Linked DNA regions of Homo sapiens: region 1 is linked to region 2. A link means that fine-mapping ties the variant in region 2 to the expression of a gene that starts in the linked region. Tissue or cell type: whole blood. Region 2 holds a variant in brackets; the other region holds the start of a gene. All regions are shown on one strand. Distances are from middle to middle.

Region 1 (8,000 bases), 46 kb after region 2:
TGGCCCTCCCAACACCACCTCTTCCAATATGGAACTCCAAGGAGTCCCCCCTCCTTGCCTTATCCTAGCATCTGGTGGCTACTGGCCATACTGGCCATCTTTGGTGTTCTTGACCTGCAGCTGCGTCACTCCAGTCTCCGCCTTCGCCATCACAGAGCTTCTCCCTGTTTGTTTGTTTCTTTTTTTTGAGACAGAGTCTCGCTGTGTCGCCCAGGGTGGAGTGCAGTGGCGCGACTTCGGCTCACTGCAACCTCCGCCTCCCGGGTTCACGCCATTCTCCTGCCTCAGCCTCCCGAGTAGCTGGGACTACAGGCAGCCGCCACCACGCCTGGCTAATTTTTGGTATTTTTAGTAGAGTCAGGGTTTCACCGTGTTAGCCAAGATGGTCTCGATCTCCTGACCTCGTGATCCACCTGCTGCGGCCTCCCAAACTGCTGGGATTACAGGCGTGAGCCACCGCGCCCGGCCGACTTCTCCCTGTTTGTATGTATCTTCACATGGCCATCTTTTTTTTTAACTAGGAGATGAGGTCTCACTATGGTGCCCAGGGCATAAAAGATCTGATCTGTGGAAGTCAAAACACTAAACTTTTTAGCCAGGCAGGTCTCGTGGCCTGCACCTATAGTCCGAGCCACTCTAGAAGCTAAGGCAGGATAATTGCTTGAGCCCAGGGAGATGGAGGCCAGCCTAGGCAACAAAGCGAGACCTGTCAAACCAAATAAAATATAAAATAAAATCACTAAGTTTTTAGGAGAAAAGAGGCTATCTGTAAGACTTTGGGGTAGGGAAAGTTTTCTTAAACAAGGCACAAAAAACTCTAGCTATAAAATAAGATTAATAAGTTTAACGTTAAAATTGAGAACACATCACACCTGTAATCCCAGCACTTTGGGAGGCCGAGGCAAGCAGATCACGAGGTCAAGAGATCAAGACCATCCTGACCAATGTGGTGAAACCCCATCTCTACTAAAAAAAAAAAAATTAGCTGAGCATGGTGGCACACACCTGTATTCCCAGCTACTCTGGAGGCAGAGGCAGGAGAATCGCTTGAACCTGGGAGGTGGAGGTTGTAATGAGCCGAGATGACACCACTGCCCTCCAGCCTGGCGACACAACCTGGCAGGTGGAGGTTGCAATGAGCTGAGATCACGCCACTGCACTCCAGCCTGGCGACACAGCGAGACTCCGTCCCCCCCAAAAAAAAGAAAAAAAAAAATGAGAACACAGCTTCACAAAGAATACCATAAAGAAAACGAAAGAACAAGCCACAATTTGGGAGAAGATATTTGCCACATACATAACCAACAGAAAATTAATATCCAGAATAGCTTTAAAAGATCAACTATTTAAAATTTAAACATTTTTAAAAGACACATGGCCCAATAAAAAATGTCAAGAAATAGGAACAAGCGTTTTACAGGAGAGGAAATCCTAATCATGATGATGTTATACCTACTAAGTCAGCAGAAATGAAGAATCTAGTAATACCCAATGTCAAAAAGGATTTGGATCAACAGGAACTCTTAATACATTAATATAATCTCTTTAGAAAACAATTCAAGTGAAACATTTGTCTATATGGATACAGCACTTTTCACTTAGATTTATATTTCAGAGAAATTTTTGCAAACAGATAAGAAGACACCAGAATGTTCGGGACAATATGGTTCTCAATGGCAAAGAGACAGGCAGAAAAAAGGGAGGGAAGAAAGGGAGGGAGTGCGGGAGAGAGGGAGGAAAAAAGGAAATGAAACCCAAACACTCTTTAACAAGAAGATAGATTTTAAATTCTGGTATATTCATACCACTAATTACAGCAGTGAAAACAAATAAACTACACACAAGGGTGAATCTTAGCCATATACGAGTGGAAAAAATCAAGTTACGGAAGACAATCAGCAGGAGGATTCCTTTGTCATGAAATAATCTAAATAAGTAGTTCAGGGAAACACACCTATGTAATTAAACTACTTCTTAAATAAGAGACTGGTAAACCTAAATTTCAGGCAGGTGGTTCCCTCTGGGTCAGGCAGGTGCAAGAGTGGGGAAGAGGCACAAGGGCACAGGTCCCCTGATTTCCTAGGGTGATGGGTTCAAATGCATCCACTCTGCTGGTACAATTCATGACTAACACTGCCTTTATTCTTTTGTATGAATAAACTGATACGGCCAAAAAATTCAGAGACATTCACACACAAACCCAGCCTAGGACCCTGGAAGGCAAAGGCTCTGCAAACCTGCAGATGTGTAGGAAGCTATTACATATAGGGTTTGGGGTTCGAGTGTGCAGCTTTCCTACAAGCAGCAACAATGAATGGGACCTTTAGTTACAGGTTTACATCTCCTTCTCTAAGCATCCAAATGCACTAATTATTGCCATAATAAATAACAATGACATGATTATAGTGTGAGGCAGTTTTTTCTACTTTTAGAACCAACCTATAGACAAAGCTCAGGACACTTAATTATAGCTTCAGAATACATTGTAAATGTTGTAAAACCTTACTTTCTTAAAAAAGTAATATAACTCTTCAGAATACATTGTTAGAAAACTTTAATTCCTAAAAAATATAACTCTTCAGACTGCAATGTCAATGTTACAAAACTATTTTAAAAAGTCATATACCCAGTACTTTGGGAGGCCAGGCAGATTACTTGAGCCCAGGAGTTCGAGATCAGCCTGGGCAACATAGGGAGACCCCATCTCTACAAAAAAAAAATTAAAAATTAGCAAGGTGTGGTGGCACATGCTGGTAGTCCCAGCTGCTTGGGAGGTTGAGGTGGGAGAATCGCTTCAGCCCAGGAGGCGGAGGCTGCAGTGAGAGGACACAGCACCACTGCACTCCAGCCTGGGCCACAGAGCAAGACCCTGTCTCAAAAAATAAAATAATAAAAAAGTAATATAACTATTCAGAATATATTGTAAATGTTACAGAAGTTTCTTTGTAAAAGTAACTAACATGAAATGGAAAGGGGGAAAAAAAGCAAAGGGAGGGTAAGGGCATGCAATTTTTTGTCCTTCATGGGAGAAAGTAAATAAATACCAACTAAAGTTGTGGAAGTTTAATTAGGTTACTGAGAGTTACAAGCCTATCCAGGAGGGAAACTGATGGGACCCTCTGCGGGAGCGGGGAGGACAGCAGGAAAGATGCATCCTTTTTCCCGCTGTGCCTCCTGGGCATCTGAAGTCCACGTGGGCCAGTTTGTCACTGAACAGCATAGGCCCCTGGAGCCTCCCGTGCACTCCACAGCCACAGCCTGGCCTCAAGAAAGAACAGAGTCTGGCTTCACATGACCTTAGATCACTAAATTTTGACTCAGACGTTAACCAGAAATACCTGCACGTCCAGGCCCAAATTTTTAAAATTGTCCTTTGTATCCACTGTGAGCTGCAGACACGGGAACCCAAACCCAGCAGACAGCACCTAATGGTGCCACCGAGTAACCATATTCCCATTGCTAGTTTTGATTCCAGAAGACACAAGTGACCCCACCTCAGACCAAACAGAAGCAAGGACAACTTTGCAGGGAGCATCTCGGCGAACTTCTAGAAGCAACTGTCCCCCTCCCACCAGAACATAAGCTAAGAAGCAAACAGCTCCCATTGCTGTCAGCACAGCTGTACAACAAAAAGGAGAACCAGTTTCAGGATGAGGCCAACAAGGTGAACAGTGCAGTAGAACACAGCAAGGATGTCAGTCCTGGAGGAGGCACCTGCAGAGCCGGGCCCTACCAAGCAGAGTGAAGAAGTCTTTCAGAGGCAAAGCCTCCCAGAGAGGAGTTCAGTACCCAGAAGAGTAGGTGGACGTGGGCCTGGAAGGGCCAAGCATGAGCCCAGAGCCTCCTATGCCTGCCCAAAGTCTTAATTTTATCCCCAAAATGAACTTTTAAGGATTCAATGCTTAGGAGTAACATGGCCAGATATGCATTTTACAAAGATTACTCCAGGGACCATGTCGGTGCAAGGCTGGAAAGCAGGAGAAAGGCTACAGTAATCCAGGCAAGAAATTATAAAGTCTTAAATTAAGGTAGCAGCAGAAAGATGAAGAGAGGGAACCCCTAAGAGAAAAATGGACATCGAATGGTACTGAGATGCGGAAGGTAAGGACGAGAAAGGCCTCAAGACGGCAGCGCAGGCCCCTGCCGTACTCTGGGAAAGAAAAATTAGTGAAAAAATTAAGGCTCAAGTCCAGGTCTTTGCTGTAACCACGAGCGCCGGCGGCGCGCGCCCCCGACCCCGCGGCGCCGGCTGAGCCCGCAGGGACCCACACGCCCAGTGCAGGAGGCTGGCGGGATCCGGGCTGGTTCTCCTGGAGCTCGCCCCGCAGGGCCGGCTGCGGTGAAGAGAGCGCAGGGTCCCGAGGCGACCCGAGGCGCGGGGCCTCGGCGCCCACCGGGCAGGCTACACTGAAGGGCACCCCGAAGACGCTGGGGGCGCGGGGCCCAGGGCCAACGGCCGCAACCCCGCCGCGATTTGGGCACGGAGAGGACGCGGGCTCGGCGGTGCGCGAAGGGCGACGGGCGCAGGGGCGGGAGACCCGGGGTCGGGCTGGTCTAAGAGTCGGGCGGCGGATCCTCCTGGGCCAGGGGCGCGGAGCCGCGCAGGCCCCACAGCCGCCCTGGGGAGATGGCGGAGCCCGGCCCGCTCTCCCGAGCGCAGGTATCTCACCTGGATCAGGCGAGGGTCACGCCAAGCCGGCTACACACCACGGAAAGGAGCCCTTCCGCGCTTTTATCCCACCGACCAATCGCACAGCGACTAGCACCGATTGACAAGCTCCACGGACCAGCCACTTGCGCGTATGGGCGGGACTAAGCTAGCCAGAGTCTAGAAGCCCGCGCTAAGGGTTGCTAGGGACGCACCAAACACCCCTACGGCGCTTCGGAGGAGCCAAAGGAATAATGGGCGCCTCCGCCCCCGGGCCGGGCAGATGCGGTTTCCTCCCGACTCGCGATCAAAATGGGTGAGTAGCGCAGAGCTCGCCTCTTGGAGGCCTCTTTCTGAAGGCGGAGGACGCGGGGCGGCTCGTTCATGGGCCGGGTGGCTCCGCAGGGTAGACGAAGGCTGCAGCGTCCGCACTGGGCTGGGAACGACTTGCAAGGGGAGCCCAGCTGGCGCCCCGGAGCCAGCCAGCTGGCTAGCGGCCCCACCAGCGCAAGTGCCCCGCACCTGCCCGCCTGCTCCGAGCGTCAAGAGAAGGCGGCATTTCGCATGGGTAAAATCCGCGCGGGGACGCCGGGAGAATGTTGTTGCTCTTGCCGTTCGGCCCATTGTACAGACGCAGCCAGCGAGGCTCGCAGAGGTCAGGGATGCACGTAGGACTGGCCCGCACCTTGCAGCCACGGAAAGATCCGCCTGGCCCGCGGCCCCTCCACGCCTCCGAGGTCGAGACAGTGACATAAGTCAACTCTCAAGCCCAGGGCGTCTCTCCACTCTGCCTAGACGTCCACTCCGTCTGCCTGCAGCTACGGCTCTGTGCGTCCCGCTTCGACTCCCTCTGCTTTCCTTCCCAGCTTCTCGCCTCCAGACTGTTCCGGCTCCGCCGCCTGAAATTACCTGCTCTGGGGGAGGCGCGGCGCGCGGCCTCATGACGGAACTACAACTCCCATGAGGCGCTGGGCCCACGCAGGCGCGGCGCGGCTGAAGTCGCCGCGCCGGAATCCCATTGGCAGGGCCGGCTCTGAGGCGGGAGCCCTGATTGGCTGAGGGGTCTGAGGCGACAGATTCCGGAAAGGGGAAGAGCAGCCAACATGGCGGCGGAACGCGGCGCGGGGCAGCAACAGTCGCAGGAGATGATGGAGGGTGAGCGGCCCCTGCGGGCGGCGGCCCAAGGGCCCAGCGGGCGGGGGGAGCTGCGGGCTGGAACTGCTCCGTGCCTGAGAGAAACTCCACGTCCTGCCTCTGGCCGCCGCCGCGCGGCCCCCTGACAGCTGACAGCCGGACCCGGGGGAGCGGGGGAGGCGCTGGACCTCGGGGGAGCCCCGGCCCGGGGGCGGCAGCGGCCGGGAAGGACCCAGAGCTAGGGGGAGAGCGGCGGCGCGAGGCCAGGCCGGGGGTGGGGCTGAATGGGACGCGGTGGCTCCATTCAGTCCAGTTGGAGCCTCGCCCCGAGCCTCTGAGATTGACGGGCGGGGGAGCCTCCTCGGTCAGCTGACGAGGAAACTGAGGCGCTGGGATCTACCAGAGTCTGCTCCTTGGTTCACGTGGTGAGGGTGGAGAAGGGTCTTCTCTTGAAATCGAATGGACTGTTGGGAAGGGGTAACAAGGAACCGGAAGATTGAGTTACACAAGGTGATACCTGTTTTCAAAGCTGTCATAGTTCCAAAAAGTCTGAATTCAACTTTCTTCCTCCTCATTCACTTTGTTGGAAAAAAAAACCACATGCATATATGTATATGTTATACGTACACATGTGTTTATAATTTTCTGCATATCTGTAGGTACAGTCATATACGTGCACGTACAGTATGTGTGTAAAAATGCGTGCACACACCCACTTAGCAACTGGGGAATCAGTTGTGTCATCAGCTTAAGTACTTTTGGGTCCCATGGTTTGGTGAGGGGTACAGACCTCCCAGAAGAGCAGTCACTGCCTTATGTGAAAGGGGTAGGGAAGAGGAATGTGGAGCTGGGGAAGGAGGGCGGGTGCAGCAGGAAGGCCTGACATGTTAGGGAGTGGTGACAGCTGCAGAAGCAGGGCGAGCTCTGAGCTGGAGCCTGAAGAATAACTCGAAGGCAACGAGGTTGGGGATAGGGTGAGGGAAAAGAGCAAGAATCACTCAAGACGGAGAAAACTGCTGTCAAAAGGTGTGGAGGAGAGTTTGACCAAATCGTATGTGGTGGGGATGGGGGCGGTAGTGTTAAGGGTCTTGGACTTCATACCCTTTGAGTCTTTTTAAGAAGCGCCTCTTCATATCCTCCCACTCCCTCTTCAGCTGTTTCCATGTCTTGGTAAATGACAGATATAAAAGCCCGGCTTTTCTCACTGTCCCACTCCCACCCATGTCCTGTTAGTCAAGGAGCTCTGACTTTTACTTTTGAAAGTATCTCCAAATCTCCGATACGTCCTCCATTCCCATTGCCAGTACCTTAACTCAGACCTTCATCATCTCTAGGCTAGATTGATTGTCCCTGTTCACCAGCCCATCATCCCCAGTACACCAAAGTCATTTTCTTACATGCAGAGCCACTGTCCCATGTTCCAGACCCTCTCTGCTGCCCTCAGGCTTCACTTTGGCCAACCTTCGTTAGCTAAGCCTTTGCTAACCTCACACCACTCCTCCTCTTACTGGGGTTTTTGTGCCAGATTGTCATGCAGTAGAACTTTCTCTCCCTGAGCCTGGACCACCAAGTGACCTGTGCCTGGTGGTGACTAATTTGTTATATATCTACTGCATGTCATGCACGTGCTAACTGCTCTTGTGCCTTTTCTAATTTAACCGTGACAGCAACTTGCTGAGGCATAGGTGCTATACTAGCTCCCTTCCACAGACTAGGAGATTGAGGCTTTCAAATGGAAACGATTTGCCAAAGCTGCATCTCTAGCAGCAAGATGCAAACTCAGGAAGAGCATTCCAGAAATACTTTTGGACTCAAAAGATCAGATTTGGATTTTAGAATTAGATCAGACTCTCTGGCAGGGGAGAATAGGTTAAGCAGGGCAAGACAAGTCACAGAGACGAGTTAGGAGGCAGGGCAGGAGCCCAGGCTGCAGCTAATAAGTAAGTGAGCCACCGTCATTGCGGGGGTAGGGAAGAAGAGATGGATTTGGAGGTTTTGGAGGTGGGTTTTATAAGGACTTGTTTTCTACAGCAATCCTTTCTTGGGTTTTACTTTGCTAGGCTAAGCGGGAAGTACAAAGATGAAGTTGAACTTTTTCCCTCAAAGAGCACATCTCTTTGTAGATAAACCATAGTCAGGAAAGAGTATTTTCAGTATGGTTGATAATTCCAAGTAATGTGTTAGTGCCTCATGTTTTCCAGACAGACTTCCAAAAGAG
Region 2 (8,000 bases):
TTTCTTCTAGTCTTAACTCCTCCTCCTTCCCTCTCAAAATGTATTCTGCACAGAAAGCCACTCCTATTCCTCACCTCCAAGCCAAATTATACAGTCCTCTCCAGGAACACTGACATACTCAGAAACCTCCCCTAATCCATCTCACCTTAGGCTGCTCTTTCCCCACCTCTGGCTCCTGTCACACTATATAAAATCTTTTTTTTTTTTTTTGAGACAGCCTTGCTGTCACCCAGGCTGGAGTGCAGTGGCGCCATCTCAGCTCACTGCAACCTCCGCCTCCTGGGTTCAAGCGATTTTCATGCCTCAGCCTCCCAAGTAGCTGGAATTACAGGTGCGTGCCACCAAGCCCAGCTAATTTTTCTATTTTTAGTTGAGTCAGGGTTTCACCATGTTGGCCAGGCTGATCTTGAACCCCTGACCTCAAGTGATCTGCCTGCCTCGGCCTCCCAAAGATCTGGGATTACAGGCATGAGCCACCGCACCCAGCCAAAATCTGCAACTTCTTGTACCTTCTCCAAGCCCAAGCTTTTGCAGGTAACTGGAGCGCTTCCTCATTTGCATAATAGGCAGTTTCAATAACTGGGGACTTTTCTTCAAGACCACACACACAGGCTCTGGATTCAGACCCAAGAGAATAAATTCTGAAATGATGTCCAGCAACTGTTGAAGACTGGCACCTCGCCGTACACTGAGCAATTCATTAATATGGGCATTGCTGAAACCCATGTCCAGGAGGGAACTCATGACCCTCTCTAGCTCCAAGGACCCTTGTACCACAGGAGTCCCCTGCTTCTCAAGGAGGCACTGAACAAGATTCCTCCTGCACTCTGGTTCCTGCACATAGTTATTGGATCTAACACAAGATAACTCCTCAATGACCCCTCCATTGGAGGCTGTAGTCAGTTTGCGCAACAAAGAAGCTGTCGTCCTTCTCTGTTCTCCAAGATGAGGAGTCTGCCTAGCCATACAGGCCCAGGTGAGGGGGATCAGGCGGTGCCAATCAAGGACCTGTAAGACACAGGACCAAAAGACAATTAATTCCTCACTATTCCAGTGTAATGGACACCATAAGACTTCTGAGCCAGAGTACTTACTGCCTTGGTTCCACACAAACATACAATTTTTATAAGCAATCTGCAAAATCCTATCTGAACTTAAGCCTACAGAGAAGGAAGCTCACAAAGAACAGGGTATTTCAAGGCCACAGAGATGGGAGTCAAGCAGGTACAATATTGTTAGCTTTTGCAGCTTTAAGGATGGGAGCAGGGACATGGAGGAAGAGGGAAAAACTATTTCTAGGCCACCTGGTCATGTGTGCCAGAAAAGTCTGGACCTCAGACTACTTTCCAGATTCATGTTCTTAAATTCATTCCACGAGAAGAATCTTGTGGGATACAGAGTTGGCCCTTGAACAACAAGGGTTTGAACTGCTTGGATCCACTTATATGTGGATTTTCTTCCGCCTCTGCCACCCTTGAGACACCAAGACCAAACTCTCCTTCACCTCCTCTTCAGCCTAAAGACCTTATGAGGATCTACTTCCTCTTAATGAATAGTAAATACATTTTCTCTTAGGATTTTCTTTTTGTTTTTTGAGACGGGGGTCTCACTCTGTTGCCCAGGCTGGAGTGCAGTGGTGCAATCATGGCTCACTGCAGCCTTGACTTCCCCAGGCTGAGGTAATCCTCCCACCTCAGCCTTCTGAGTAGCTGGGACTACAGGTGCACACTACACCCTGCTAATTTTTGTATTTTTTGTAGAGACGGGGTTTTGCCCTTATGATTTTCTGAATAACGTTTTCTTTTCTCTAGCTTACTTTAAGAATACAGAATGCAATATATATATATACAAGATATGTGTTAACTGTTTATGTTGTCGGTAAGGCTTCCAGTCATGAGTAGGCTATTAGTAGTTGAGTTTTGGAGGAGTCAAACGTTATACACTGATTTTCAACTGGTGTGGGGGCGGTCTGGTGCCCCTAACCCCTGTGTTGTTCAAGGGTCACAGTAATTAGTCAACTTGCATACACAATTCCAGTTGACCTCAAAAGTCTTCAGTGGTTCAGGCTGGTGCTTAACAAACTATGCACAAATCATCCAGGCACTCTAAGCCAGCAGTCTTCAACGTTTTTGGCACCAGGGACTGGCTTCATGGAAGACAATTTTTCCACAGACTGGTGAGGGGTTTCAGGATGATTCAAGCATATTACATTTGTTGTGCACTTTATTTCTGTTATTTTCACGTTGTAATATAAGATGAAATAATTATACAACTCACCATAATGTAGAATCACTGGGAGCCCTGAGCTTGTTTTCCTACAACCAGGAGGTGCCATCTGGGGTTGATGGGAAACAGTGACAGATCATCGGGCATCAGATTCTCATAAGGAGCGCAACCTGGACCCCTCAAAGGCGCAGTTCACAATAGGGTTCGCGCTCCAGTGAGAATCTAAGGCGGCTGGTCTGACAGGAGGCGGAGCTCAGGCGGTAATGCCAGCGAAGGGAGCGGCTGTAAATACAGTCTGGCTGGCTCACTTGCCGCTCACCTCCTGCTGTGCAGCCTGGTTCCTAATAGGCAAGGGACGGTACCGGGGGTTGGGGAACCCCTGCTCTAAAACCTTCACATCGGTCCCAACCCCTTCTCCAGCGTCATCGATTGTCGCCCTGGGGCCACCCTGCCAAGCCCAAGCTCTGGCTGCTCTCCAGCCTCCCCTGTCCAGATGCTCCCTCCGCCAGGAACACCTGGCAGTCGCTGGGGTCAGCGGGCGCGGCCCGTGGAACTGGGCTCAAGCCTAAAGACCTCTATGCTGATTCCGCTTCCTCTTAATGAAAAGTACATGTTATCTTCCTTGTGAAGTTCAAACTCTTGTTCAACAGTCAACTCAGGCCGGGCGCGGTGGCTCACGCCTGTAATCCCAGCACTTTGGGAGTTCGAGGCGGGTGGATCACCTGAGGCCAGAAGTTACAGACCAGACTGGCCAACACGGTGAAACCCCGTCTCTACTAAAAATACAAAAATTAGCCAGGCATGGTGGCGGGCGCCTGTAATCCCAGCTACTTGGGAGGCTGAAGCAGTAGAATTGCTTGAACCCGGGAGGCGGAGGTTGCAGTGAGCCGAGATCGCGCCATTGCACTCCAGCCTGGAGACAGAGCGAGACTTTGTCT[C/CA]AAAAAAAAAAAATGTCAACTCTATATCCCACAATAATTGAGCAGAGCCACGGGTCCAGGATGCCAAAACCAGGTCAGCGTGCACGGACCTCCGGGAGGGCTCCACGACCTGGCCGTGAAACACTCGGCGGCCGCGGTTCCTCTGCGTCGCTGCCCGCCCGCCTGCGACCCGGAGAAGCCCGCGCGCCCAGCTCGAGCTTACCTGACGGCCGAACGCAGCCATAGCGCGGAGAAGATGGCAGCAGTTACGGCGCCGGAAGCAGCGGTCCTCCCCCGTCCTTCACTTCCGGCCCCCGGTCCGTCACCGACGCCGTTCCCAGCGCCAGCGCGGTGTGGTGGATCGTGATTCCGGCCCGGAGCTGTGCTGAGCGTTCACGGCCCCGCGGGGCTCAGGTGTCCCGGGGCCGCCCCTTAGAAAGCCGGAAGGCCGGAGTCGCGCCCGTCACCGTGCCGCCGCCTCTGCCGCGGCCTCAGCCTTCGGGGGCCTCGGTGTCCGGTTGTTCCCGTTGCACTGCCGTGTCCCGTTTCGCAGAGCTCTGGGCCGCGTGAACGAATGGGTCGTCCTGGCCCATACTTGTGTTTCAGATGACCTGAGAATTCCTCTCAAGAGTACAGGTAGAGGGGAACTGGTTCCTTGCTTCGGGAACTTCACCCGAGAGCGCAGAAATCCTTCCCGAGGCAGGAAAAATGGATTCCGTTCCATGTAGAGATATTTAAGATTTTATTGTGTAAAAATCTGTATTCAGCGTGAACACCGGGGCCACCTACGCACAAAAAGAAGTCTTTACCGCTTTTCTTTCTTTTTACTCTCAGCCAGTGGAAGATGAGAATTTGCCGTTTTTAAAAGACCCAAGTAAAATGACAGGAATTACGGCACATTTCCCTTTATAAGCAAGAGCCTTCCCAACTTCGAGGTCTGGTTCCCTCTTAGGATGAAATATAGTAAAGTTTTAGCCCAATGTGTATTCATTCTTAAATTTCCTCTCTCGACCTAAGAGCGTAGGCATCTTTCACAAGGTGATGCTTGTGAAGAATAAAAAGGTGTGCTTTCTCAGCTGCCTAAATCCTGCCACCAAAGCCTTAATTTATAAGCATTTCTTGTTTTATCTACTTCATTCTGGACTGACATAAAGGATTTGATTCTTGCATGGGCACACATTTACATATCTGCTTTGCGCCAGGCATGGAGTGGGGTGCCAAACAATTTATGTAAAACTGTCTTTTGACAAAAGGATTATGTCAAAGAAAAGGAAGGTTCTAATCCGTGTAGAAACTAAAGAATTGGTTGCTTTGGCAGAGTGCAGTGGCCCACGCCTGTAATCCCAGCACTGTGAGAGGCTGAGGTGGGGGGGATTGCCTGGGCTCAGGAGTTCAAGACCAACCTGAGCAACATAGGAAAATCCTGTCTCTACAAAAAATAAAAAATTAGCCGGGAGTAGTGGCGTGCACCTGTAGTCCCAGCTACTCAGGAGCCTGAAGTGGGAGGATCACTTGAGTCCAGGAGGTTGAGGCTGCAGTGAGCCATGATTGCACCACTGCACTCCAGCCTGCGTAACAGAGCAAGACCTTGTCTCAAAAAACAAAAGGAAAAAAAAAATTGGTTGCCTTTGTTGTTTTTTATAATGTAATTTTCTTCTCAAAATACTCAACTGTCAACATCTCACAATAAATTGTGTTAATGCTACACCAAAAGCCTAAGAAAATCCCATGAGCCACCCCAACTCCCTGGAAAGAATCAAGGAACCTGAACAGTTTGTCTAGCTCTAGAAATAAAATGACAGCTGGGACATGGGGATTACTATGAAAAATTGACATGAGCCCGGGTGTGGTGGCTCACGCCTGTAATCCCAGCACTTTGGGAGGCCGAGGTGGGCAGATCACCTGAGGTCAGGGGTTTGAGACCAGCCTGGAAAACATGGTGAAACCCCATCTCTACTAAAAATACAAAAATTAGCCAGGCATGGTGGTGGGCACCTGTAGTGTCAGCTACTCAGGAGGCTGAGGCAGGAGAATCACTTGAACCTGGGAGGCGGAGGTTGCAGTGAGCCAAGATCACGCCATTGTACTGCAGCCTGGGCAACAAAAGCGAAAGTACTTCTCAAAAAAAAAAAAAAAAAATTTGACATCACCTTCAGTCTTGTGTGAAAACTTTGCTCTCTCGAACCATACTTTAAAAATATGCAGTGGGTTGGGCACGGTGGCTCATGCTTGTAATCCCAGCACTTTGAGAGGCTGAGATGGGTGGATCACCTGAGGTCAGGAGTTCGAGACCAGCCTGGCCAATATAGTGAAACCCTGCCTCTACTAAAAATACAAAAATTAGCCAGGTAACGTGATAACGCACACTTGTAATCCCAGCTACTCGGGAGGCTGAGGCAGGAGAATTGCTTGAACCCAGGGAACGGAGGTTGCAGTGAGCCGAGATTGCACCATTGCACTCCAGCCTGGGTGACAGAGCAAGATTCCATCTTAAAAAAAAAAAAAAAAATGGAGTGGAAAAATTGTCAGCCTCAGCCTCAGAACTTTCCTCTCTGGGTTCTTTCTGCAAAGAACGTTTGCAAAATACCAGACCTTCCACTGCCATGAAGTCAGATGAGCTTTAATTATTTTTTCTTATAAAGAAGTAACAGTTCTTAGAAAGCTCAGACTATGCATTCTCAACCCATTAAACACCTGTCTGCAAACACCATTGTGGCCGAACGCAGTGGCTCATGCCTGTAATCCCAACATTTTGGGAGGCCGAGGCGGGCGGATCATGAGGTCAGGAGTTTGAGACCAGCCTGGCCAACATAGTGAAACCTCGTCTCTACTAAAAATACAAAAATTTAGCCAGGCGTGGTGGTGGGCACCTGTAATCCCAGCTACTTGGGAGGCTGAGGCAGAATTGCTTGAACCTGGGAGGCGGAGGTTGCAGTGAGCTGAGATCGCACCATTGCACTCCAGCCCAGGCGACAGTATAAGACTCTGTCTCTAAATAAATAAACAAACAAACAAACACCATTCTATAACATCCTCTGTGTTATAAGCACCATAAACACTACAAGGTAGGGGTTCTTAAAACATCAGAAAACTCTTTGAATTCTGAAGAGTGAACATCACTGACTTTAATACACACCTGTAAAACCCTTGTACCTTGAATGTCCCTGATAGAGGAGGGTCCTCCCCCACCAACTCCATCAGTCACTTGTGGTGGCAGCGAGGCTCAGGCAGCACTTTCTGAAGAAAGGGATGGCAATAGCCCATATCCTACTAGATGGGACTAAAATTAACTCTGATCATCCCAAAACAGTTGAGTGCCTCCTAAATAACCACTAGAAATAGCTCAGAACCACGCAGGAGGCAGCCTGGCTCCCAGGCAGCTTCCAGAGGGTTCTGGGCAGGAGTCTCAGAATGTGGAAAAACCGTCTGCAAGTGATGACATGTGGGAAAAGGGTAGGGGTTTAGGTTTTTGGTTTTTTTCCTACTGTCTCAGCAGGGGAAAAAAATGAAAGGTTCTGCTCTCACCTCTAGCTATTCCCTCCTCTCTAACACAGACATGAAATAAAACAATCCTAAGTACTTGACCTAGCCAAGTCTGTCTGAGGGGGATGGACTGGAGTCTAAGGGAGGGAAGCAGCCAGTTGAGTATCTGACAAACACCCTGGAACCTGAGCAGCTCGGAGGAATACAGGGCTGGAGCCCCTCACACAGACCAGAGGTGGGGGCTGGGCCAGGAAGCCCCTCATGTGGACAGAGGTGGGAGCTGGCTGGCCATGGGATATTTGGGGACTGCTGGCAGTGAGCCAGCCACGTGTTTGACAGCAGAGTCTTGCTACAGACAGAAGGGAGGTCCCTGAGGAAGCCACCCTCCCCCGTCTTACCAGATGGAGCAAGCTTCAGAGCCCTAGGCCCACCCCTGGCAGGGCCTGCTTGTAAAAGGAACCCCAGAATGGCCAAGGCTAGACTTCTCTCCAACTGTGGCAAGTGGGGTGCACACATGGAAAAATGAGGAAACCAGGTATTTCTCACACTTAGCACACGGGAACAGTTCACAACATCCAAGTCAGGATAACTGTTTACTAACAAAGGTGCTTTAATTTGAAAAGCATTTGAGGAAATAAATTAATGAAATAGTCTGGCCATTTGACTAACCAGTTCTACAAATTTCACATATCCGTCACTCAGATGAGCATATACCAAGTCAGAGGAAACAAAACATGCACATATACAAAAGTAGAAAGAGAAAACACTCATGCCTTCAGAAGTTCACAAATTAAAAGCCCTTTAATAATATAAAACAGTTGAACACTGGAATGTTTTTTTCTAGGTCATGAAAAAAGTGAATTCCAAATCTATGTAATAAATCTAAAATAATACAGCATCACTGTCTTCTGTTCTGGTGTTTATCAAACCTGCACATGAGTTTTTAGAAGGTGAATTGGGGATGCTTCAGAATGTATTTTCTCCAAACAGATGGAGCCTGAAAACTGTGTGATTTTCCAAACCAAGTGGAGAAAAGCAGGAAGAAATTGGTGTTTAGCTGGTCAGCAGACGGGGATCCCCGGGATGCAAACAGCCTTGGCCATTAGGAGCCTCGCCTGGAACGGGGCCCCCACAAAGCTCCTGAGCCTGGGCCACATCACTCAGGCTCCTGTTCCCCATCTCCAGGCTCGCAGCGGACAGAACTCCACTTTCTGAAGAAACAAGAAGGTAACTGTATCACGTGCTAACAACTTAAGGTTCTAAAATACTTTGCTTCTCACTTGAAGAAGTCCTAGAACAAAAGCCTAAGGTGAGGCCCTCAGAAATCCAACTGGCAATGTCCCGGAAGTACAGATCCTGCCAAGGTGGGGATCT

What was found. PIP is the estimated chance that this variant, and not a neighbour inherited with it, causes the effect.
Region 1: it holds the start of PASK, and the variant in region 2 is fine-mapped to the expression of PASK in whole blood (INTERVAL, PIP above 0.99).

What each region holds. Positions count from the first base shown.
Region 1 is chr2:241,144,745-241,152,744 of GRCh38, forward strand. It overlaps PASK (PAS domain containing serine/threonine kinase), which reads right to left and starts at 4,728. Exons shown (of 18, transcript NM_015148.4): 1 at 4,670-4,728. It overlaps PPP1R7 (protein phosphatase 1 regulatory subunit 7), which reads left to right and starts at 5,723. Exons shown (of 10, transcript NM_002712.3): 1 at 5,723-5,803. The coding sequence starts at 5,752. RefSeq lists enhancers at 3,682-3,841, 5,355-5,514 and silencers at 4,095-4,144, 4,195-4,254, 4,315-4,674, 5,805-6,144.
Region 2 is chr2:241,098,887-241,106,886 of GRCh38, forward strand. MTERF4 (mitochondrial transcription termination factor 4) reads right to left here and starts at 3,401. Exons shown (of 4, transcript NM_182501.4): 1 at 3,367-3,401; 2 at 510-1,008. The coding sequence starts at 3,387. It overlaps PASK (PAS domain containing serine/threonine kinase), which reads right to left. Exons shown (of 18, transcript NM_015148.4): 18 at 7,213-7,837. The coding sequence ends at 7,680. RefSeq lists enhancers at 2,648-3,187, 3,188-3,727. The variant C/CA (reference allele first, on the strand shown) is at 3,165.